2 separate regions of the Homo sapiens genome follow, and region 1 is linked to region 2. Evidence: fine-mapped QTL for protein levels in blood plasma. A gene starts in region 2. The other region holds a variant in brackets. All regions are shown on one strand. Distances are from middle to middle. Region 1 overlaps PLAUR (plasminogen activator, urokinase receptor). Region 2 holds the start of PLAUR (plasminogen activator, urokinase receptor).

Region 1 (12,274 bases), 24 kb after region 2:
GATGGTGCCACTGCGTTCCAGCCTGGGTGACGGAGTGAGACTCTGTCTCGGGAAAAAAAAAAAAAAAAAGGAAAGAAATGTTTCTAGGGCCATGTGGAGATGCTGCACTGGGGTGAGTAGGGGGTGACAAGAATGGAAACCCAGAGGCTAGGGAGGTAGCTGGAGTTGAAGGAGGTCTGAGCTGGACTGGTCCATGGGGCTGGAAAGGAGGGGGTGGATTCTAGAAAGATTCAGCAGGCAGAATAGGCAGGGCTCAATGACTGGCTGCAGGGTGGGATAAGGAGGAATTGATTTTGAGTGAGTCCTTGCAGAGCTGGGGCTCCAGGACTGTCCCCATGGAGTCTCACTCCCCTCCCCCTCTTCCAAACAGGCCGGGCTGTCACCTATTCCCGAAGCCGTTACCTCGAATGCATTTCCTGTGGCTCATCAGACATGAGCTGTGAGAGGGGCCGGCACCAGAGCCTGCAGTGCCGCAGCCCTGAAGAACAGTGCCTGGATGTGGTGACCCACTGGATCCAGGAAGGTGAAGAAGGTGAGCCCCAACCTGCTGGCAACTCCTCCTCCCTGCTCTGCTCCTCCCTAAGACTGCACTTAACAAACAACCCCAAAGTAACAGGGATGTCAGCAAGGGACTAAGTTCTCTCATACACAAGAGGTCCAGTGATAGGAAGTCCAGGGCCACAAGGACAGGTCCAGAGTCACCAGGAACCCAGATGCCTTCTCATTTCTTTTTATTTATTTATTTATTTATTTTTTGAGACAGAGTCTTGCTCTCTGTCACCCAGGCTGGAGTGCAATGGCATGATCTTGGCTGGCTGCAACCTCCGCCTCCCAGGTTCAAGTGATTCTCCTGCCTCAGCCTCCTGAATAGCTGGGATTACAGGTGTGCATCACCACGCCTTGCTAATTTTTGTATTTTTAGTAGAGATGGGGTTTCACCATGTTGGTCAGGCTGGTCTCAAACTCCTGACCTTGTGATCCACCCGCCTCAACCTCCCAAAGTGCTGGGATTACAAGCGTGAGCCACCACGCCCGGCCACCCTCTTGTTTCTTACACATTACTTCCATTCTCAAAATGCCTCATAGTCTAAAATGGCTGCCAGAGCTCCGGGTCTCACATCTAAGTTCCAGGAAGGAGGAAGAAGGAAAGAAGGGACAAAAAAGGGGGCACTCCTCCTTTTGTAAGGGTTCTCCTTTCTGGAAGTCCCATAAAGCACTTCTATTTATATCACATTAGTCCGAACTTCATCACATGACTACCTGGAGAGGCTGGAATATGTAGTTTTCGACAAGATCTATGACTGTTCTAGATAAAATGAGGGTCTTATGATGAAGGGTGAAGTAGAGAATGGTTGAATGCCTGCTATTTCGGGCAAATCCCATCTTAGTCCCTCATTCACAATCTGACATCTGACCTCTGTCCCCTGGCCCCCATAGGGCGTCCAAAGGATGACCGCCACCTCCGTGGCTGTGGCTACCTTCCCGGCTGCCCGGGCTCCAATGGTTTCCACAACAACGACACCTTCCACTTCCTGAAATGCTGCAACACCACCAAATGCAACGAGGGCCCAAGTAAGGAACGGGAGACACAGGCAAGGCCTGGGGTCGGGCAGGGGCATGCACTCAGGCAGACAGCTGCGCAGTCACTCTCTGGCAATCAAGTCCTCTCTGGGCCTCTGTTTGCTTTTCTGAAAAATGGGAGTATCAGGCCTTTTTTTTTTTTTTTTTTTTTTTGAGACGGAGTCTCACTCTGTTGCCCAGGCTGGAGTGCAATGGCGTGATCTCCGCTCACTGTAAACTTCGCCTCACGAGTTCAAGCGATTCTCCTGCTTCAGCCTCCTGAGTAGCTGGGATTACAGGTGCCCACCATCACCCCTGGCTAATTTTTCTATTTTTAGTAGAGATGGGGGTTTCACCATGTTGGCCAGGCTGGTCTCGAACTCCTGACCTCAAGTGATCTGTCTGCCTCAGCCTCACAAAGTGCTGGGGTAACAGGCATGAGCCACTGCACCCAGCCAGGCCTTTCTTCAAAGAAGAACTTCGTAAGGATTCAATGATACTATCAGCCCTCGCCAAGACCTGTGCTTCCTGTCTCTTTTGTCTCTCTCAAATTTTCCCACTCCTCCCCTGCTCCACTGCCACCACCTGGGCTGAGCCACGCTGACTTCTTGCCCAGGTTGTTGCAATGACCTCCTCTCTGGTCTCCCTGCTTCCACTCCTGCCACCCTACAGCCAAGGCTCAACCCAGCAGCGAGTGATTTTTTGGGGGGTATGGGGGGGACAGGGTCTCGCTCTGTCACCCAGGCTGGAGTGCACTGGCATGATCATGGCTCACTGCAGCCTCAAACTCCTGGGCTCAGGAATTCTTCCCACCTAAGCTACTGGAGTAGCTGCGACTACAGGTGCATGCCACCGTACCCAGCTAATTTTGTATTTTTGGTAGAGATGGGGTCTTGCTTTGTTGCCCAGGCTGGTCTTGAACTCCTGGGCTTGGCCTCCCAAAGTGTTAGGATTACAGGCATGAGCCACCATGCACCACCAATTTTTTATTTTTTAATGTAAATCAGATCATGTCACCCTCCTTTCTCAGGCACTTCAATGACTTCCCCTTCCTCTTAGAATAAGATCCAAAGACCTTATTCTGTTGGCCTATGTAATCTGGCACCTGTCTGCCTCACAGTCTTTGTTTAGATTCGTTTTTGGGGTTTTGTGTTTTCTTTAGACATAGGGTCTTGCTCTGCCACCCAGGCTGGGGTGCAGTGGCACAATCACGGCTCACTGCCACCTCAAACTCCTGGGCTCCAGTGATCCTCCCACCTCAGCTTCCCAAGTAGCTGGGACTACAGATGCGCATCATTGCACCCAGCTACATTTTTTTTTTTTTTCTGAGATGGAGTCTTGCGCTGTTGCCCAGGCTGGAGTGCAGTGGCGCGATCTTGGCTCACTGCAAGCTCCGCCTCCCGGGTTCACGCCATTCCCCTGCCTCAGCCTCCCGAGTGGCTGGGACTACAGGCACCCACCACCATGCCTGGCTAATTTTTGTATTTTTAGTAGAGACAGGGTTTCACTGTGTTAGCCAGGATGATCTCGATCTCCTGACCTCATGATCCGCCTGACTCAGCCTCCCAAAGTGCTGGGATTACAGGCGTGAGCCACCACGCCCGGCCGCACCCAGCTAAATTTTTAAAACTTTTGTAGAGATGGGGTCTCACTATGTTGCCGGGGCTGGTATCAAACTCCCAGGCTCAAGCAATCCTTCTGCCTTGACCTCCCAAAGTGCTGGGATTACAGGCATGAGCCGCTGCACCTGGCCTTCATTTAGTTTCTTTCTTTCTTCCTTTCTTTCTTTTTTTAGATGGAGTCTCGCTCTGTCAGCCAGGCTGGAGGGCAGTGGCGTGATCTTGGCTCACTGCAACCTCCGCCTCCCAGGTTCAAGCGATTCTCCTGCCTCGGCCTCCCAAAGTGCTGGGATTACAGGCATGAGCCGCTGTGCTGACGTTCATTTGGTTTCTATAATCACCAAAGCCCATCTGGTCTCATGGCCCTTGCAGATGAATATCCTCCCTTAGAACACATCTTCCCCAAGAGTTCACCCTGCTGGCAACTTCTCATCCATTAGGCCTCAGCTTTAATGTATCATCTTCAGGGATGCTTTCACTGTCCCTCCCCTCCAGTGTAATCTAGATCCCTGTCTCTATTACCCAGCACTGTCAACAGATAGAAATGTTCCCTATCTGTCCTGTCCAATATTACAGCCACCACTGTATGTGGTCAGTGAGCACTTGAAATGTGAACTGAATTTTAAGATTCGATTTAATATTAATTTATTTAAATGTAAACAACCACATGTGGCCAGTGGCTACCAGATTGGGTAGTGTAGCTCTAAATTGTAAATTCTGGCTGGGCACAGTGGCTCACACCTGTAATCCCAGCACTTTTGGAGGCGGAGGCGGGAGGGTCGCCTGAGGCCAGGAGTTTGAGACAAGCCTAGGCAACATAGCAAGACTCCGTCTCAAAAAAAATTTTTTAGTAATAATAATAGTAATAACTTGTAAGTTCTGGCCAGGTACAGTGGCTCACACCTGTACTCCGAGAACATTGGGAGGCTGAGGCAGGCAGATTGCTTGATCCCAGGAGTTTGAGACCAGCCTGAGTAATGTGTCAAAACCCCATCTCTACAAAAAACAGAAAAATTGGCTAGGCATGGTGGTGCACGCCTGTAGTCCCAGCTACTCAGGAGGCTGATGTGGAAGAATCTCTTGAGCCGGGGTGGTCGAGGCTGCAGTGAGCTACAATTGCGCCACTGCACTCCAGCCTGGGCAACAAACTGAGACCCTGTATCAAAAATAAATAAATAAGTTGTAACTTTTGTGAGAGCAAGGACAGTTTCATCTTACATAGTTTTACCCAGCACCCAGCACGGTGCCTGGCCAGAAATGGGACTCATGGGGAGTTGAAAGTTGGGGTTTCTCTCAAGCCCTCGAAAACCATCCCCCTCCAAATGCCATTCAGACGCCTGACCACAAGGTGGCTCCATGACATCTCTGGCTCGGAGTGGAAGTCCTGGGGAGGTCATTCAAGGAAGTGGAGATCCAAGCACTAATTTTCTTGGTCTCTGTGTCTCTGGTCTTCTCCTAAGTCCTGGAGCTTGAAAATCTGCCGCAGAATGGCCGCCAGTGTTACAGCTGCA[A/G]GGGGAACAGCACCCATGGATGCTCCTCTGAAGAGACTTTCCTCATTGACTGCCGAGGCCCCATGAATCAATGTCTGGTAGCCACCGGCACTCACGGTGAGGCCCTCTCCGAGGCTGGGAGGGAACACTTATTGGGGGTGGAGAGTTCCGCAAGAGATTGACTTCCAGTTAAGCTGGAGTTAACTGTGGTGGGTCTCCCTGTGGAAAAGGTGGGATTTCCTTCAGGTGGGTGAATATTATTGTAAGGAATTAGGACTTGTCCATCAGGATGTGGACATTTTTGCCATGGAAAAGTGGAATTCCGGCTGGGTGCGGTGGCTGAAGCTTGTACTCTCAGCACTTTGGGAGGCTGAGGCCGGAGGATCTCTTGAGGCCAGGAGTTTGAGACCAGCCTGGGCAACATAGCAAGACCCCCATCTCTACAAAAAGAAAAATGGAATTCTTTGGTGGATTTCTCGTGGGTTGTGGGGATTTGCTGAAGACATCTTGGGCTTTCATCCTGTGGTGTCCTGGAAAGGTCTCTGTATTCCAGTGGTTCTCAAACTTTTTGGTCTCAACTTCTTCATGCTTTTAAAAATTATTTTTGGCCAGGTGTGGTGGCTCACGCCTGTAATTGCAACACCTTGGGAGGGTGAGGAGGAGAACCACTTGAGGTCAGGAGTATGAGAGCAAGCCTGGCCACCATGGTGAAACCCTGTCTCTACAAAAAATTACAAAAATTAGCTGGGTGTGGTGGCGTGCACCTATAACCCCAGCTACTCAGGGGGCTGAGGCACGAGAATCACTTGAACCCAGGAGGAGGAGGTTGCAGTGAGTGGGGATCACCCCACTGCACTCCAGCCTGGATGACAGAGGGAGACTTTGTCTCAAAAAAAAAAAAAAACTCTTTATTGTTTATATCAGTGATTTCTATAGATAAATGCCACATTAAAATTAAAACTGAGAACCAGGAGTGGTGGCTCACGCCTGTAATCCTAGCACTTTGGGAGGCCGAGGTGGGTAGATCACCTGAGGTCGGGAGTTCAAGACCAGCCTGACCAACATGGTGAAACCCCATCTCTACTAAAAATACAAATTAGTCGGGCATGGTGGCACATGCCTATAATCCCAGCTACTCGGGAGGCTGAGGCAGGAGAATCACTTGAACCTGGGAGGCAGAGGTTGCGGTGAGCCAAGATTGTGCCATTGCACTCCAGCCTGGGCAACAAGAGTGAAACTCCGTCCCAAAAAATAAAATAAAATAAAATTAAATTAAAATTAAAACTGAGAAATCTTTTTTTTTTTTTTTTGAAATGGAGTCTTGCTCTGTCGCCAGGCTAGAGTGCAGTGGCATGGTCTCAGCTCACTGCAACCTCCCCCTCCTGGGTTCAAGCAATCCTCCTGCCTCAGCTTCCTGCATAGCTGGGATTACAGGCATGAGCCACCATGCCCAGCTTATTTTTGTAATTTTAGTAGAGACGGGGTTTCACCATGTTGGCCAGGATGGTCTCGATCTCCTGACCTCATGATCTGCCTGCCTCGGCCTCCCAAAGTGCTGGGATTACAGATGTGAGCCACCGTGCCCAGCCAAAACTGAGAAATCTTTAAAGATTTATTTATGAATTCATCTTATAACAATAAAAACTCATTACACATTAAGATAAATAACATTTTAATGAAAAATAAGTATAGTTTCCAAAGAAAAAATGTAATGATAGCCAGGCATGGTGGCTCATGCCTATAATCCCAATACTTTGGGAGGCCAAGGTGGGCGGGTCACTTAAGCCTAGGGATTTGAGACCAGCCTGGGCAACATAGCAAGATCCTGTCTCTACAGAAAATACAAAAGTTAGCTGGGCATGGTGGTGCATGCCTGTAGTCCCAGCTGCTTGGGAGGCTGAGGTGGGAGGGTCACTTGAGCCTGGGAGGTGGAGGTTGCAGTGAACGGAGATTGCACCACTGCACTGCGGCCTGGGCAACAGAGCGAGACCCTGTCTTAAAAAAACAAACAAAGAAACAACAAAAAAAAAACCAGCCAGGCGCGGTGGCTCACGCCTGTAATACCAGCACTTTGGGAGGCCAAGGCGGGCAGATCACAAGGTCAGGAGTTCGAGACCAGCCTGGCCAATATGGTGAAACCCCGTCTCTACTAGAAATACAAAAATTAGCTGGGCATGGTGGTCGCGCCTGTAGTCCCAGCTACTTGGGAGGCTGAGGCAGAAGAATTGCTTGAACCCGGGAGGCAGAGGTTGCAGTGAGCCGAGATCGTGCCACTGCACTCCAGCCTGGGTGACAGAGTGAGACTCCATCTCAAAAAAAAAAACAAAAAAAAAGCGTAATGAGAAAACTGGCATTATTTTGCTGTGTTGCACATCTCTTTAATGTCCAGCTTAATAGAAGACAGCTGGGTCCTCATGGAAGCTTCTGCTTTCAGTCTCTTGCAATATCACATGTCCTGGAGTTTTTGGAAAAGCCCATTGTACACTTATGAGAGTGAAAAAGCCATGTGAAATCACAGATCTCCTGAAAGGGTCTCTGGGGTCCCTGAGCCACACTTTAAGAACCGCTGCTCGCTTCCTTTCTTTCTTTTTTTTTCTTTCCTTTTCTTTCTCTGTCTCTCTTTCCCTTTCTTTCTTTCTTTCTTCCTTCCTTCCTCCCTTCCTTCCTTCTTTCCCTTCTCCTTCCTTCCTTCCTCCCTCTCTCTCTCTTTCTTTCTTTTCTTTCCCTTCTTCCCTTCCTCCCTTCCTTCTTCCCTCCCTCCCTCCCTCCCTTCCTTCCTTTCTTTCTTTTTATTTGTTTTTTGAAACAGGGTCTCACTCTGTTACCCAGGCTGGAGTGCAGTGGCGTGATCATAACTCACCACAGCCTCCATCTCCTGAGCTCAAGTGATCCTCTCATCTCAGCCTCCCAAGTAGCTGGGACTACAGCTGTTTTTTTCTTTTTTATGTTTGTAGAAACAGAGTTTTGCTATGTTGTCCAGGCTGGTCTGGAACTCCTGGGCTCAAGCTATCCTCTCTCCTTGGCTTCCCAAGGTGTTGAGATTACAGGCATGAGCCACCACACCTGGCCCTGAGAACTGCTGCTTTCTCTAGGTGGTAGTGAAGGTGGCACCCACTGCAAGGTGGCAGGTCACCTACTGGAGAATTCCAGTCCTGGGCCCAGGAGCTGGAAGTCTCACTCCGTCTTCTCTTTCCTCAGAACCGAAAAACCAAAGCTATATGGTAAGAGGCTGTGCAACCGCCTCAATGTGCCAACATGCCCACCTGGGTGACGCCTTCAGCATGAACCACATTGATGTCTCCTGCTGTACTAAAAGTGGCTGTAACCACCCAGACCTGGATGTCCAGTACCGCAGTGGGGCTGCTCCTCAGCCTGGCCCTGCCCATCTCAGCCTCACCATCACCCTGCTAATGACTGCCAGACTGTGGGGAGGCACTCTCCTCTGGACCTAAACCTGAAATCCCCCTCTCTGCCCTGGCTGGATCCGGGGGACCCCTTTGCCCTTCCCTCGGCTCCCAGCCCTACAGACTTGCTGTGTGACCTCAGGCCAGTGTGCCGACCTCTCTGGGCCTCAGTTTTCCCAGCTATGAAAACAGCTATCTCACAAAGTTGTGTGAAGCAGAAGAGAAAAGCTGGAGGAAGGCCGTGGGCCAATGGGAGAGCTCTTGTTATTATTAATATTGTTGCCGCTGTTGTGTTGTTGTTATTAATTAATATTCATATTATTTATTTTATACTTACATAAAGATTTTGTACCAGTGGACAAGGCCAGGTATGCCCTTCTTTGTAGTGTCTATCTTTGGGAGGATAAATGGTGGGGGACACCTTTTCACAGGCTCCTGGAATCAGGGGTCATGTTTGAGGCCCCTGCCTAGGTTGGAAGTCCTCCTGGGGGCTGCCTCCACATCTATTTCTGGACTCCAAATGCTGACAGAGCAGGAGCACTGCCATCTTGAACAAACACCACCATTCTTAGTTCCTCTTGATTAAAAATCGGCTAAATCCGGACGTGGTGGCGGGTGCCTGTAGTCCCAGCTATTCGGGAGGCTGAGGCAGGAGAATGGCGTCAATCCGGGAGGTGGAGCTTGCAGTGAGCCGAGATTGCACCACTGCACTCCAGCCTGGGTGACAGAGCAAGACTCTGTCTCAAAAAAAAATCAGCTAAATCCAGCCCCAAAACATCAGCCTAATGGCTACCATCAGCATAACCAGAAACATTCCAACCCTAAGATAAACCCCTCTCTGACCAGAAACATGCCAACCCCCAGATAGCCTCCCTTCCGACCAGAGACTTTCCAACCCCACAATAAACTTTTCCTCACATGAAAACATTCCGAACCTAGATAAGCACCCCCTTCCAAAACTCTTAAATATCCTTAGTCTGTAAAAAAAAAAAAAAAAAAGGGCTCTCTAACCTAACTCAGCCAAAAGCCCCCCTCAGGTTGGTTTTCTCTAAAATAAACCTGTCCTTCACCGTCAAGCCACATTTCATGTTTCTTTCCTTTTCCTTTTTCTTTTCTTTTCTTTTCTTTTTTTGAGATGGAGTTTCACTCTTGTTGCCCAGGCTGGAGTGCAATGACACAATCTCAGCTCACCACAACCTCCACCTCCTAGTTCAAGGGATTCTCCTGCCTCAGCCTCCCAAGTAGCTGGGATTACAGGCATGCACCACCACACCCGGCTAATTTTGTATTTTTAGTAGAGACAGGGTTTCTCCATGTTGTTCAGGCTGGTCTCAAACTCCCAACCTCAGGTGATCTGCCCACCTTGGCCTCCCAAAGTGCTAGGATTACAGGCATGAGCCACCGTGCCTGGCCTCCTCTTTCTTTAATTCTTACAAATGCAAGCTTCCAGATCACACACTGAACACTAACCTTCTAGTCTTCTCCTAAACTTCAAAGGTTGCAACTATTTTGTTGTTCTAAGGAGACATCCCCACATTTCCCAGCATGCTTTGGGAAAGGAGACGGATAGAAGATAACCTGATGGCCAGAACTCCCTGCATGCACTGCAGTGAGGAATAAGGACAGGAGTGCACTTCCCCTGATGTGCTGGGGACCGGGGATAAAGGCTGGGCTCTATTTCCCGGGATGCCTCAGGACTGTCAGAAAAAGAGACAGAACTACCATTTCAATGGCACTCTAGGAGCACAATATTGAAAAATTCATGTTCTTCTCATCATTTGCTAAGGCAACCCATGGAGACAAAAATTACATTCCCCATCAAATCTTGTGGCTAATGAAGAAAAAATAAGATATCTTCGGCTGGCTGTGGTGGTTCACGCCTGTAATCCCAGCACTTTGGGAGGCCGAGGTGGGCAGATCACTTGAGGCAGGAGTTTGAGACCAGCCTGGCCAATTTGGCAAAACCCCGTCTCTACTAAAATTACAAAAATTAACCGGGTAAGGTGGTGGGTGCCTGTAACTCCAGCTACTCGGAAGGCTGAGGCAGGAGAATCGCTTGAACCCAGGAGGAGGAGGTTGTAGTGAGCCAAGATCACACCACTGCATGACACAGTGAGACTATCCCCAAAAAAAAAAAAAAAAAAAAAAAGACATCTTCCATGGTATTTGGGGGCAGGTGAGGGACAAGGTTCTTGTTTAGGGCTTTCTCTAATGACATATCACCACCTGTCACTGTAGTGGCTTAAAGAAGTGAGGTCTGTACTTCTGCCTCTTGAATATGAGTGACTCTGTGACTGCTTTGACCAGTAGAATGTGGTGGAAGTTTTGCTGTGCTATGTTCTGGAACCAAGTTTTAAGAAACTTTCATTTTTCACTTTCTGAATCTTAGAACGCTCACTCTGGGGAAGCTGGTTGCCATGTAAAAGTACTACTGCCCTGAGACCACCATGCTGTGAGGAAGCCCAAGCTACTCATGTATAAATGCCATGTGGAGATAGAGCCCCAGATGTTTCAGCCATCTCAGCCCAGGCACCAGACAAGTGGGTGAAGAAGCCACCTTGGACATGTAGCCCCAGCAGATGTGATATAGAGAAGAAACAGGAAACTTGGCTATATTAGTTTCCTAGGGCTGCCTGTGATAAATTATTACAAACTTTATAAACTAACACATTGTGTGCCTATATCAAAACATCATGGAAGGACAGGCACAGTGGCTCATGCCTGTAGTCCTAGCACTTTGGGAGGGTGAGAAAGGAAGATCTCTTGAGCTCAGGAGTTCAAGATCAGCCTGGGCAACACAGTGAGACCTCATCTCCACTAAAAATAAAAAAAAATTGGCTGGATGTGGTGGGGCATGCCTGTGGTCCTAGTTACATGGGAGGCTGAGGCAGGAGGATCCCTTGAGCCCGGGAGGTCAAGGCTGCAGTGAGCCATGATCCCACCACTGTACTCCAGCCTGGGCAACAGAGCCAGACTCTGTCTCCAAAAAAAAAACACTAAAACCCAAAACCATATTACATATGTCCTGTAAATATACACCACTATTATGTATTCATAATACTTAAAAATAAAAAATTAAAAACACACACACACAAATCTTACAAGCAAGGTGGCTTAAAACCACAGAAACTTGGCCGGGTTTGGTGGCTCATGCCTGTAATCCCAGCAATTCGGGAGGCTGAGGCGGGCGGATCACGAGGTCAGGAGATCGAGACCATCCTGGCTAACATGATGAAACCCTGTCACTATTAAAAATACAAAAAATTAACTGGGCGTGGTGGTGGGTGCCTGTAGTCCCAGCTACTCGGGAGGCTGAGGCAGGAGAATGGCGTGAACCCGGGAGGCGGAGCTTGCAGTGAGTCGAGATCATGCCACTGCACTCCAGCCTGGGCAACAGAGCGAGACTCCACTCAAAAAAAAAAAAAAAACAAAACAAAACACACACACACACACACAGAAACTTAGGCCAGGTGTGGTGGCTTACACCTGTAATCCCAGCACTTTGGGAGGCCAAGGCAGGCATATCACTTGAGGCCAGGAATTTGAGACCAGCCTGGCCAACACAGTGAAACCCTGTCTCTACTAAAAGTACAAAAAAAAAAAAAAAAAATAGCCGGCTGTGATGGCGCTCCTCTGTAATTCCAGCTACTTGGGAGGCTGAGGCATAAGAATCACTTGAATCTGAGAAGCGGAGTTTGCAGTGAGCCGAGATTGAACCACTGCACTCCAGCCTGGGCAACAGAATGAGCCTCTGTCTAAAACACATACACACACACACACACACACACACACACACACACACACACACACACACTAGAAACTTGTTCTCTCACAGTTCTGAATGCTAAATGTCCAAAACCAAGGTGTTGAAGTCTCACGGGAAGAGCCACGCTTTTAAAGCGTCAGGGGAAGAGCCATGCTTTTAAAGTCTCCGGGGCTGACACCTGTAATCCCAGCACTTTGGGAGGCCGAGGCGGGTGGATCACCTGAGGTCAGGAGTTCGAGACCAGCCTGGCCAACAGGGTGAAATCCCATCTCTACTAAAAATGCAAAAACTAGCCAGGCATGGTGGCGGGTGCCTGTAATCTCAGTTACTCGGGAGGCTGAGGCAGGAGAATTGCTGGAACCTGGGAGGCAGAGGTTGCAGTGAGCCGAGATCGCGCCATTGCACTCCAGCTGAGGCTGACAGCAGTGAGACTCC
Region 2 (12,053 bases):
ATTTTTTTTAGAGCATAGTCTCACTCTGTCACCCATGCTGGAGTGCAGTGGCACAATCATAGCGCATTGCAGTCTTGAACTCTTGGGCTCAAGAGATCCTCCTTCCTTAACCTCCTGAGTAGCTGGGAAGATGGGCATGTCCTACCACGCCTGGCTAACCTTTTTTTATTTTATAGAGACAAGGTCTCCCTTTGTTGCCTAGGCTGGTCTGGAACTCCTGGGCTCAAGCGATCCTCGTGCCTCAGCCTCCCAAAGTGCTGGGATTACAGGCGTAAGCCACTGTGACTGGTTAGTGTCATTTTTATAGGGGTCATTTGTGCTTCTTTTCCTGTCCTCTATTAATTATTATTATTATTATTATTATTATTATTATTTTTGAGACGAGTCTCACCCTGTCCCCCAGGCTGGAGTGCAGTGGTGCAATCTCAGCTCACTGCAACCTCCGCCTCCCAGGTTCAAGCAATTCTCTTGCTTCAGCCTCCCAAGTAGCTGGGACTACAGGTGCACTCCACCATGCCCAGCTAATTTTTTGTATTTTAGTGGAGACGGGGTTTCATGGTGTTGCCCAGGCTGGTCTCGAACTCCTGAGCTCAGGCAATCCACCCATCTTGGCCTCCCAAAGTGCTGGGATTACAGGCGTGAGCCACTGTGCTCCACCCAATTGATTCATAGAAGCTCTGTTAGCCTCCTATGGCTGCTGTAACAAAGTACTACAGACTGGGTGGGTCAGAACGACAAATGTATTGTCTTACAGTCCAGAGTCCAGAAGTCCAAGATCAAGGTGTCATCAGGGCCATAAACCCATAGAGGACTCCTACCTGGCTCTTCCCAGCAGCAGTGGCTTTCTGGCAATCTTTGGCGGTCCTTGGCTTGCAGCTGCCTAGCTCCACTCTCTTCCTTTGTCTTTACATGGCATTATTCCTGTGTCTCTCTGTCGTCACAGGGCCACCTTCTTCTTTTTTTTGAGATGGAGTCTCACTCTGTCACCCAGGCCGGAGTGCAGTGGCACAGTCTCGGCTCACTGCAGCCTCTGCCTGATGGGTTCTAGCGATTCTCCTGCCTCAGCCTCCCAAGTAGCTGGGTCTACAGGCACGCGCCACCACGCCTGGCTAATTTTTGTATTTTTAGTAGAGATGGGGTTTCATCATATTGGCCAGGCTGGTCTCAAACTCCTGACCTCAGGTGATGCACCCACCTCAGCCTCCCAAAGTGCTGGGATTATAGGCGTGAGCCACCGCGCCCGGCCTAGGGCCACGTTCTTATAAGGATGCCAGTCATAGTGATTTGGGGCCCAACCTACTTCAGTATGACTGCAACTTAACTAATTATATCTGCAACAGCCCTATTTCCAAATAAGGTCACATTCTGAGTACTGGGGGTTAGGACTTCAACCTATGTTTTTCTGGTGTGGAGGGGAAGCAATTCAACCCATAACAGGAGCTCCTTATATATTCAGAATATTAGGCCTTGAATTGCAAAGATGATTTCTGCTGTTGCATCTAGGCGGTGGAATAAAAGAGCTGCAAGGTGCTAGAGGCAAGGAAAGCTTTTTTCTTTACACAAACTCAGTGAATATTATTCCTCTGGTCCCTGCTTCTTTCCAAGTCACCCCTAATACCATGAAGCCAGAGAGAGGCATAGCAAAGAAGGCTGCTGAAGGATGAGATGGAAAGAGGCGGGAGCTGGGAGAGAACAGGATGAAACTTCTATTAATAGCTCCTAGTCTTTGCTTGCCCTACTCCAGGGCAGCACCCCTCAGCATGGTGGGTGTAAGTGTAGGAAACAGAGCCAGAATGCAGGGGTTCAAATCCTGACACTACACTTAGCAAGTCAGTTTATCTTATTTTATTTATTTATTTATTTATTTTTGAGACAGAGTCTCGCCCTGTTGTTTAGGCTGGAGTGCAGTGGCGCGTTCTCGGCTCACTGCAACCTCCACCTCCCGGGTTCAAGTGATTCTCATGCCTCAGCCTCCTGAGTAGCTGGGATTACAGGCACCTGCCACCATACCAGGCTAATTTTTATATTTTTTTAAAGTAGAGACGGGGTTTCACCATGTCGGCCAGGCTGATCTTGAAATCCTGACCTCAAGTGATCCTTCCGCCTCGGCCTCCCAAAGTTCTGGGATTACAAGCATGAGGCACCACACCTGGCCTAACAAGTCAGTTTAGAAGCCAGATGTGGTAGTTCAAGCCTATTAATTCCAACACTTTGGGAGGCCAACACTGGAGGAATGATGGAGGCCACGAGTTCAAGACCAGCCTGGGCAACATAGTGAGACCCCCCACCCTCCCCCACCGTCTCTATTAAAAAAAAAAATTCAATCAGCCAGGCAGCCAGACACGATGGCTCATGCCTGTAATCCCAGCACTTCGGGAGGCCAAGGTGAGTGGATCAACTGAGGACAGGAGTTCAAGCCCAGCCTGGCCAACATAGTGAAACCCCGTCTCTACTAAAATACAAAAATTAGCCGAGCATGATGACAGGCATCTGTAATCCCAGCTACTCAGGAGGCTGAGGCAGGAGAATTGCTTGAACCTGGGATGTGGAGGTTGCAGTGAGCTGAGATTGCACCACTGTACTCCAGCCTGGGCAACAGAGCCAGAATCCACCTCAAAACAAACAAACAAACAAAAAAGCTCTCTAAAATCAGCCAGGCTTGGTCACATGGGCCTGTAGTTCCAGTTACTCAGGAGGCTGAGGCAGGAGGATCACTTGAGGCCAGGAACTGGAGGCCGCAATCAGCTATGATCCTGCCGTTGCACTCCAGCCTAGGCAACAGAGCAAGACCGTGTCTCAAAAAATAAAAAATATCAGCTCAATTTAGGCAAGTGAGTTAACCTCTTGTATTGGTGTCCTATTTTGCTGTAACAAATTAGCTTAGATCTAGTGGCTTAAAACAACAGAAATTTATTCTCTCACAGACTGGAGGTCAGAAGTACAAAATGTGTCTCATGTAATCAAAATCAAGGTGTCAGCAGAGCAGTGCCCTGGTCAAGAGATGTCCGGGGTGAGTGATTTCCTTGTCGTTTTCCAGCAGGAGCTGCATTTCTTACGTTTCTTGGTTCTTGGCCATTTCTCCATCATCAAAGCCCGCAGCAAATACCTTCTGTCTCCCACCCTGTTTTCCTCTGCTTCTCTCCCATGACTTACTTTTCTTCTGTCTACAGTCAAATGTCCCTGTCCCTCCTTCCTCCAGGGGCACTTCTGATTACACTTAGGGCCCATCTGGATAATTAGGAAAATGTTCCTGATTAAGTTCCTTAACTTAATCATATCTGCAAAGACCCTTTTTTCCTTTAAGGTAACACCCATAGGCTCCAGGGCTTAGGACCTGGATATTTTCGGGGACCATCTCTCAGCCCACCACACCTCTCTAATCCTCAGTTTCCGTGTGTGTGTACGAAATAGGATATTTACAGATTCACCAATAATATAGATAATACTCTCAAAACAGTACCCACTGTAACACAAACACAATAAACTTGAGACGGGGAGAAACTCATTTAAAGTCTCCTGTTTTAGGCCGGGCGCCGTGGCTCATGCCTGTAATCCCAGGACTTTGGGAGGTGGAGGTGGGCAGATCGCTTGAGCTCAGGAGTTCAAGACCAGCCTGGAGAACATGGTGAAATGTTGTCTCTACAAAAAATACAAAAATTAGCCAGGCGTGGTAGTGCACGCCTGTCATCCCACCTGCTTGGGCAGCTGAGGTGGGAGGATGGCTTGAGCCCAGGAGGTGGAGGTTGCAGTGAGCTGAGATCTCACCACTGCACTCCAGCATGGACGATAAAGCCAGACGTTATCTCAAAAAAATAAAAAGTCTTCCCTTTGGACCTCAGTTTCTCTGCCTGGAAAACGGGGGAAGAGGGTTATTGGACTCAAGGGTTTACCAGCTCTTCCACTCCCCAGGGAGGCCCTGAGTGGAGAGGTCCTCTACATCTAAGAGGTGTCCAGGCCAGGATCTGAAAGCCACATCAGTGTGGCCTGTTAGGCGTCCCAGAAAGGGGAGGTTATGAGCGATGGCCCTTTCCCTACCATCAGCTCAGCCACCCCCCATCCCCCCCACCTCCCCAACCAGAGAAGGACCTTCCCAGCGGCCAGGCCAGAGGGCAGTCACTTCATCATGGCAGGTGGCAAGAGGATGAGGGAGCCCCAAACAGGTGCACACACACACACACACGCATGCATGCAGGCACACTCACACACATGCATGCATACACACACTCACACATGCACATATGCACACACACACACACAGGCACACAAACACGTGCGCGCACACACACATGCACACACATGCACACAAACACATGTGTGCGCACACACGCATGCACGTACACTCACACACATGCACACGCATGCACACACGCGCACACATGCACACACGCACACACACAGTGTCCCTGTATCTCTGTGTCTATTTTGTGTTCTCTGAAGGCAACTGTGTGTTGTTTTCTCTAACTCCTCTGTCAGTCTCTTATCTTCTCTCTCTCCCTGCTTGCCCATTTTTCTTTCTCCCTGTCCTTGTTCTTCGGTTGCTGTTTTCTGTCTCTCTCACTCCCCCCACACCCCCATCTCAGATTTCCCCTGAGCCAGTCTGTCTGTGGGTCTCTTCTCTCTCCCTCTCCCTCGTTTCCCCACCTCCATCTCTATCCCCAGCTCTCTCTCTCTCTCTCTGTCTCTCCCTCTCTTTGCCTCCTCCTCTATCACCCTCTCTGTCTCTGCCTGAAATTCTCCTCTCCACAGGCTGGGGAAGCCCCCGAAACCCATGGGCCTCACCCATGATCCCGCAGGCAGGCAAGAGCTGGGTGAGGCCCAGGTGAGTCACGAGGAGGAAGGAGCCGACATCCCTGCCGTGTTTCTGGAGAGTGTCCAGGTCCTGATCCCTGCATTTCCCTTCCCTTTACACGTCAGCAGAACCTTACAGGTGTGTGTGTGTGTCACTTGAGGGAGAGACAGAGAGAAAGAATCAGAAAGAGAAACAGAAACAATGACACAGAAAGAGAAAGAGAGCCATGGGGAGAGACAGAGAAAAGGGAGAAGCAGAGATAAAAAGACATGAAGAGAGAGACAAACAGATACAGAGATCGAGGTACAGAGAGAGAAAGTGATAGAGTTGGAGAGAGAGAGAGATAGGCATTGAGAGAGAGAAAGAGGGACAGAGACAAAGAAAACAACAAAACAGAGAGATAGAAAAAGACAAAGACACAGGGAGAGACAGAAATTTCAGGAGGCGAGGGCAGCCTTGGGCAGGGATGAGTGGGCTCTGAAATACCTCTCATTCGTTAAAGAGGAAATTGGCTGAGCATAGTGGCTCACACCTGTAATCCCACCACTTTGGGAGGCCAAGGCGGGAGGATCACTCGAACCCAGCAGTTCAAGACCAGCCTGGGGAACAGACCAAGGCTCCATCTCTACAAAAAACACGAAATATGAGAAAATAGCCAGGCATGGTGGTGCACACCCCTAGGTCCCAACTACTCAGGAGGCTGAAGTGGGAGTTTCGCTTGAGCCCAGGAGTTCAAGGCAGCAGTGAGCTATGATCATGCCTCTGTCTCAAAAAAAAAAAAAAAAAAAAAAAAAGGGAAATTGGGAAATTGTGGCTTAGAGAAGTGAGGTCATCCCACCAGGAAGTGGTAGCAGCACAGCACACAGCTCCGCATGACCCTCAAACCTGAGTTTTCTCTTCACTGAGAGATGCCCCCTACCCACCCCAGACCCATTTCATAGGTGGCAAAGCCGGGGATTGATGGAGTGAAGCCATCTGCCCAGGGTCACCCAGAAGCAAGTGGCTGAGCTGGGTCTCAAGCCTGCTTGGACCAACACCCCAACTGTCTATTTCCCCACCTCATGTACATTCCGATCTAGTTTAGTTTTCACACCAGCCCAAGAGGGATCCCCTTCTCCAGCTGAGAAAACTGAGGCTCAGAAAGAAGAATGTCATTGGCCCAGGGTGACCCAGCCAGGGAAGTGCCCACTTCAGCAGCTGACGCGTGATAACTGTTGACGTCAGACTCAATGACAGGCCTCCATCTCCCTTCCTACTCCAGGAAGAGGTGAATGTCCAGAGTTGCAACAATGATAATACTGGCAGCTATCGCTTTTATTGAGCACATACTATGTACCAGGCACTGTGGCAAGCATCTTAGGAGCATTCTTCTTTTTGTTTGTTTGTTTGTTTGTTTTAGATGGAGTCTAGCTCTGTCGCACAGGCTGGAGTGGAGTGGTGCGATCTCGGCTCACTGCAATCTCTGCCTCCCAGGTTCAAGCAATTCTCGTGCCTCAGCCTCCTGCGTAGCTGGGACTACAGGTGCATGCCACCACACCTAGCTAATTTTTTTGTATTTTTTAGTAGAGACAGGGTTTTGCCATGGTGGCCAGGCTGGTCTTGAACTCCTGACCTCAAGTGATCCACCTGCCTTGGTCTCCCAAAGCACTGGTATTATAGACATGAGCCACCATGCTCAGTCATTTTAGGTGGATTCTTTTACCTCCGCAGTACACCAGCCCTGGGAGGGTGATACTTGCTATCTCTACTTTCCAGATAAGGGGCTTGGGCACAGAGATAGATTAAGTAACCTGCTAGAGGTGACACAGCCAATATGTAGATGCAATTTAGATTTTCACAATCTGAGACCAGCTCCCACACTCTTAACCATTGGGCTATACTACCTCTTAGGAAATTCTCTGGGAGTTCTTTTTTTTTTTTTTTTCAGTCTCACTTTTGTTGCCCAGGCTCGAGTTCAGTAGCTCGATTTTGGCTCACTGCAGCCTCAAACCCCTGGGGCTCAAGTGATCCTCCCACCTCAACCAGAGAGTAGCTGAGACCACAAGTGTGCACCACGACACCTGGCTAATTTTTCTATTTTTCATAGAGACAAGGTCTCGCTATGTTGTCCAGGCTGTAATTTTATTTTTTTATAGATACAAGGTCTTACTATGTTGCCCAGGGTGGTCTCGAACCCCTGAGCTCAAGCAATCCTCCAGCCTTCGCCTCCCAAAGTGCTGAGATTATAGGCATGAACCACTGTGCTCACCATTGGGAGTTTTTTTGTTTTTTGTTTTCTAACCTTATCTTAAAATCATTAGCTTACAGCTTCAATGAGTTAGTAAGAATCACATAGTACAGGCTGGAAGCGGTAGCTCATGTCTGTAATTTCAGCAATTTGGGAGGCCAAGGTGGGTGGATCACCTGTAGTCAGGAGTTAGAGACCAGCCTGGCAGACATGGTGAAACCCCATCTCTACTAACAATACAAAAATTAGGGCCGGGTGCGGTGGCTCACCCCTGTAATCCCAGCACTTTGGGAGGCTGAGGCAGGTTGATCATCTGAAGTCAGGAGTTCGAGACCAGCCTAGCCGACATGGCGAAACCCCATCTCTACTAAGAATACAAAAATTAGGGCTGGGCGCAGTGGTTCAAGCCTGTAATCCCAGCATTTTGGGAGGCTGAGGCGGGTGGATCACCTGAAGTCAGGAGTTCAAGACCAGTCTGGCCAGCATGGTGAAACCCCATCTCTACTAAAAATGCAAAAAATTCGCCAGGCATGGTGGAGAATGCCTGTAATCTCAGCTACTCAGGAGGCTGAGGCAGGAGAACCTCTTGAACCTGGGAGGCAGAAGTTGCAGTGAGCCGAGACCGTGCCATTGCACTCCAGCCTGGGTAACAAGAAAGAAACTCCGACTCAAAAAAAAAAAAAAAATAGCCAGGCATGCATGAGAATCCCTTGAACCTGGGAGGTGGAAGTTGCAGTGAGCCGAGACCACGCCATTGCATCCAGCCTGGGAGACAAAGTGAGACTCTGTCTCAAAAACAACAACAACAACGACAACAAATCACATAGTATAATCATTATTACAGCAGTAGAAGTAGCTACCACTTACTCATCCCCTACGACTCTCTTCCTCTCCTAATCTGTTCCAGCCACACTGACATCTCTTCTGTTCCTAGAATCTCATCAGGCTTCCACCTCAAGGCCTTTGCACTGGTTGTTCCTGCTCCTTGGAAAGGTTCCCTGCCCATCTGCCCTACTTCTTCCCTCACTGCATTCAGCCTCTGCTTGAATGCCACTTGCTCAGGGAACCCCTCCTGGATCACCCACCTAAAACAGCTCACACCTCATTTGCACCCAGATACTTCCTTCAGCCTGCTTTGTTTTCTCCAGTTTGCTTATCCCTCTCAGACAGTGAAAGATTAGATAACACATATCTGCTCCCCACTGTCAACACAACAAAAGGTGGGAACTTTGCTTTGCGTCCTGCTGTGCCCCTAGCTCCTGGACCAGTGCCCAGCACAAAGTAGGTCCTTGGTAGATGTTAAAGGAATGTGTTGAGCCCTCCATTTCGGCCAGCAGCTATTCCAGGCATTGCACCTACATTAAATTGCTCTGTTTAGTTAGATGCATCCTAAGACGGGGAGACAATTTTATCTTTAGTATTTTATTTTACTTAAAAAAAAAAAAAACTTGGCCAGGTGCAGTGGCTCATGCCTGTAATCCCAGCACTTTGGAAGGACAAGGCAGGTGGATCACCTGAGGTCAGGAGTTCGAGACCACCCTGACCAACATGGTGAAACCCCATCTCTACTAAAAATACAAAAATTAGCCGGGTGTGCTGGCGTGCCCCTGTAATCCCAGTTACTCAGGAGGCTGAGGCAGGAGAATTGCATGAACCCAGGAGGCGGAGATTGCAGTGGCCGAGATTGCACCACTGCACTCTAGCCTGGGTGACAGAGTGAGACTTCGTCTCAATAAATAAATAAATAAATAATAAAAAGAAAGAAAAAACTTATTATAAGCCTTTTCAAACCCACAGAAAAGGAGACAGAATGGCATAATATGCCCTTATATACTGATTACCTTTATATAATTGATACAACCATTTGGCTATTTTGCCTTTATTTTCTACTCAAGTATTTATTTATTTATTATTTTTTTGAGACAGGGTCTCGCTCTGTTGCCCAGGTTGGAGTGCAGTGGTGCAATCATAGCTCACTGCAGCTTCCAGTTCCCAGGTTCAAGCGGTCCTCCCACCTTAGCCTCCCAACTACCTAGGACTACAAGTACGGGCCACTGCACCCAGCTAATTTTATTTTATTTTTAATTTCTTTTGGAAAGATGAGGGCTCTTTATGTTTCCCAAGCTGATCTTGAACTCCTGGCCCCAAGTGATCCTCCTGCCTTGGCTTCCCAAAGCATTGGTGTTACAGGCATGAGCCACCTCATCTGACCTCTTCTAAAATATTATAAAATAAATACAGACATCAAAATGAAAACAAAAGAAAAAGAAAAAACAAAACAAAAATCCCCAAAACAACAACAACAAAAAATGCAGACATCAATAACATTCACCACTAAATACTCTAGTAAGCATCTGCAAAAACAAACAAACAAACAAAAACCAGAATCCCACCTAAGCATACAGCCATTGTCGTAACAGTGATATCTACTTTTTTGGCTGAAGTGTCTTTTTTTTTTTTTTTTTTTTTTTCTGTGAGAAGGAGTCTTGTTCTGTTGCCAGGCTGGAGTGCAGTGGCACGATCTCGGCTCACTGCAACCCAACCTCCGCCTCCCGGGTTCAAGCGATTCTCCTGCCTCAGCCTCCTAAGTAACACACACACGCCACTACGCCCGGCTAATTTTTGTATTTTTAGTAGAGACGGGGTTTCACCATTAAGTGTTTTAATGTAGGTGCAATGCCTGGAATAGCTGCTGGCCAAAATGGAGGGCTCAACACATTCCTTTAACATTTACCAAGGACCTACTTCGTGCTGGGCACTGGTCCAGGAGCTGGGGGCACAGCGGGAAGCAAAGCAAGGGTTAAGTGTTTTAAGTGTTTAAGAGATGCATATTTCAGGATGCATCTCTAGATAAGGACATTTTCCAAAATACCAGTATCCCTCCTGACAAAACTAACAAAAATCCTGTTAGCCAAATAATCAGCCACATTCATATTTACCGTCAAAGTTTTTATCCTCATTTTACAGCAGTGGAGAGCGATTGCCCCGGGTCCCACGTTAGGAAGAGAGAGAACTGGGATTTGCACCCAGGCAATCTGGGGACAGAGCTGTGATCACAACTCCATGAGTCAGGGCCGAGCCAGCCCCTTCACCACCAGCCGGCCGCGCCCCGGGAAGGGAAGTTTGTGGCGGAGGAGGTTCGTACGGGAGGAGGGGGAGGCGCCCACGCATCTGGGGCTGACTCGCTCTTTCGCAAAACGTCTGGGAGGAGTCCCTGGGGCCACAAAACTGCCTCCTTCCTGAGGCCAGAAGGAGAGAAGACGTGCAGGGACCCCGCGCACAGGAGCTGCCCTCGCGACATGGGTCACCCGCCGCTGCTGCCGCTGCTGCTGCTGCTCCACACCTGCGTCCCAGGTAGGGGCTGGGTCCCGAACGCCTGCGCCTGGAACAGGGTCTAATTGAGGGGGTTGGGGGTTGTCAGAGGATGAGTTGGAGGAATGCGGTTCAGTCCTCAGCATCCTCCCTAATCAAATAATAGTAATTCTCGTGCTTTGTGCAACGCCACGCGGCGCAGTACCTGGCACTCAGTAGCTAAGGAAATATTAGTGGAGCAAAGGCATTTAGCTTTACATAATTTAGTGAGTGCTTTTTTTTTTTTTTTTTTTTTTTTGACAGAGTCTCACTCTGTCGCCCAGGCTGGAGTGCAGTGGCGCGATCTCGGCTCACTGCAACCTCTGCCGCCCGGGTTCAAGCGATTCTCCTGCCTCAGCCTCCTGGGTAGCTGGGATTACAGGCGCCTGCCATCGCGCCCGGCTAATTTCTGTATTTTTAGTGGAGACCGGGTTTCACTCTGTTAGCCAGGATGGTCTCAATCTCCTGACCTCAGATGATCCACCTGCCTCGGCCTCCCAAACTGCTGGGATTACAGGCGTGAGCCACCGCGCCCGGCCCAAGTGTTCTTTTTTTAAATGGAGTTCTTCGAAGCCTCTTCCTTGCAATTTCAAACTAGGCGATGGGACTTTATTAATTTCGTTTCGCAGAGGAAACTAGGGCACAGAGAGGTTAGATAACTGGCCTAAAATCACACAGCCAGTGCTTGAATACGCAGGATCTGACCCTGCAGCGCCCCCCAGCGCTCTCCACGCTGCTGGGTCTCCCCCTCTGAGAAACGGGGGGACAGGACCCCCTTTTACAAAAGGCCCAAAGGGAGGCTGACTGAGCGGCGCAGAGCCAGTGCTGGAGACCCGGGACTGTCCCTCAGGACCTTTCCCTCTCACTGAGGCGACTCTCACTTACTTCCCCGGAAAATGTGGGGGGCTCTGGGTCGAGGAATTCGAGAAGGAACTGAGTCAGGGCGGGTGGCCACAGGGTGTTGGGGCCGCGATGAATAACCCGGAAAGCGCTCGAGACCGCGGGAGGCCGGGAATGAGTAACAGCTCCGGGATACTCCGAACGCGCAGCTGGAAAGGGATGTCCGGGAAGGCCCGGAGGTCGGGGACCGGGCCTAGGGACTGGGCTGCAATCTCGGGGCGGAGCCTGGGGCGGGGAGAGAGTGTCGGGGAGGAGCCAGAGGGCGGGGCTGGAACCTCAAGGAAGAGCTACGGGAGAGGTTACAGACCGAGGAAGAGCTAGGAGCGGGGCTAGAACCTCGAGGCGGAGCCAGAGGGCGGGGTTATAACCTCGAGGCGTAACCAGAGGGCGGAGTTATAACCTCGGGAGGAGCTAGAAGGTGGGACTAGACTCTTGAGGGGCAGGATTATAACCTCGGGGAGGAGCTAGAGGGCGGGGCTGGAACCTCAAGGAGGGGCTAGGGGCGGGGTTATAAGCTTGGGGAGGAGCTACGGGGCTGGGCTAGGACCTCAAGGGGCCAAGGGGCGGGGGTTACGACCTCGGGGAGGAGCTACAGGGTGGGGCTGAAACCTCAAGAAGGGACTGGGGCGGAGTTATGACCTCAGGGGAAAACTAGGGGCGGGGAGAGCTAAAGGGCGAAGTTAGAATCTCAAGGAGGAGCTAGAGGGAGGGACTAAAGCCTCGAGGAGGAGCTAGGGGCGGGGTTATGGCATCGGGGAGGAGCTAGGGGGCGGGAAGATAAGGTCA

Evidence for each region. PIP is the posterior inclusion probability: the model's chance that the variant is causal. Protein levels are from the aptamer-based SomaScan assay of Sun 2018.
Region 1: its variant is fine-mapped to the plasma level of the PLAUR protein (Sun 2018, PIP 0.95). The variant lies in the coding sequence of PLAUR. If it changes the protein, the assay may bind it differently, which can mimic a change of level.

What each region holds. Positions count from the first base shown.
Region 1 is chr19:43,644,737-43,657,010 of GRCh38, reverse strand. PLAUR (plasminogen activator, urokinase receptor) reads left to right here. Exons shown (of 7, transcript NM_002659.4): 4 at 371-532; 5 at 1,438-1,572; 6 at 4,640-4,786; 7 at 7,868-8,432. The coding sequence ends at 8,121. Among named protein-coding and RNA genes, the nearest start is that of CADM4, 11 kb to the right of the region's middle. The variant A/G (reference allele first, on the strand shown) is at 4,691.
Region 2 is chr19:43,668,383-43,680,435 of GRCh38, reverse strand. It overlaps PLAUR (plasminogen activator, urokinase receptor), which reads left to right and starts at 10,267. Exons shown (of 7, transcript NM_002659.4): 1 at 10,267-10,370. The coding sequence starts at 10,316. LOC124904724 (a long non-coding RNA gene) reads right to left here and starts at 11,672. Exons shown (of 3, transcript XR_007067264.1): 1 at 11,253-11,672; 2 at 9,956-10,410. RefSeq lists enhancers at 620-1,119, 4,903-5,002, 10,199-10,498 and silencers at 11,419-11,498, 11,539-11,768.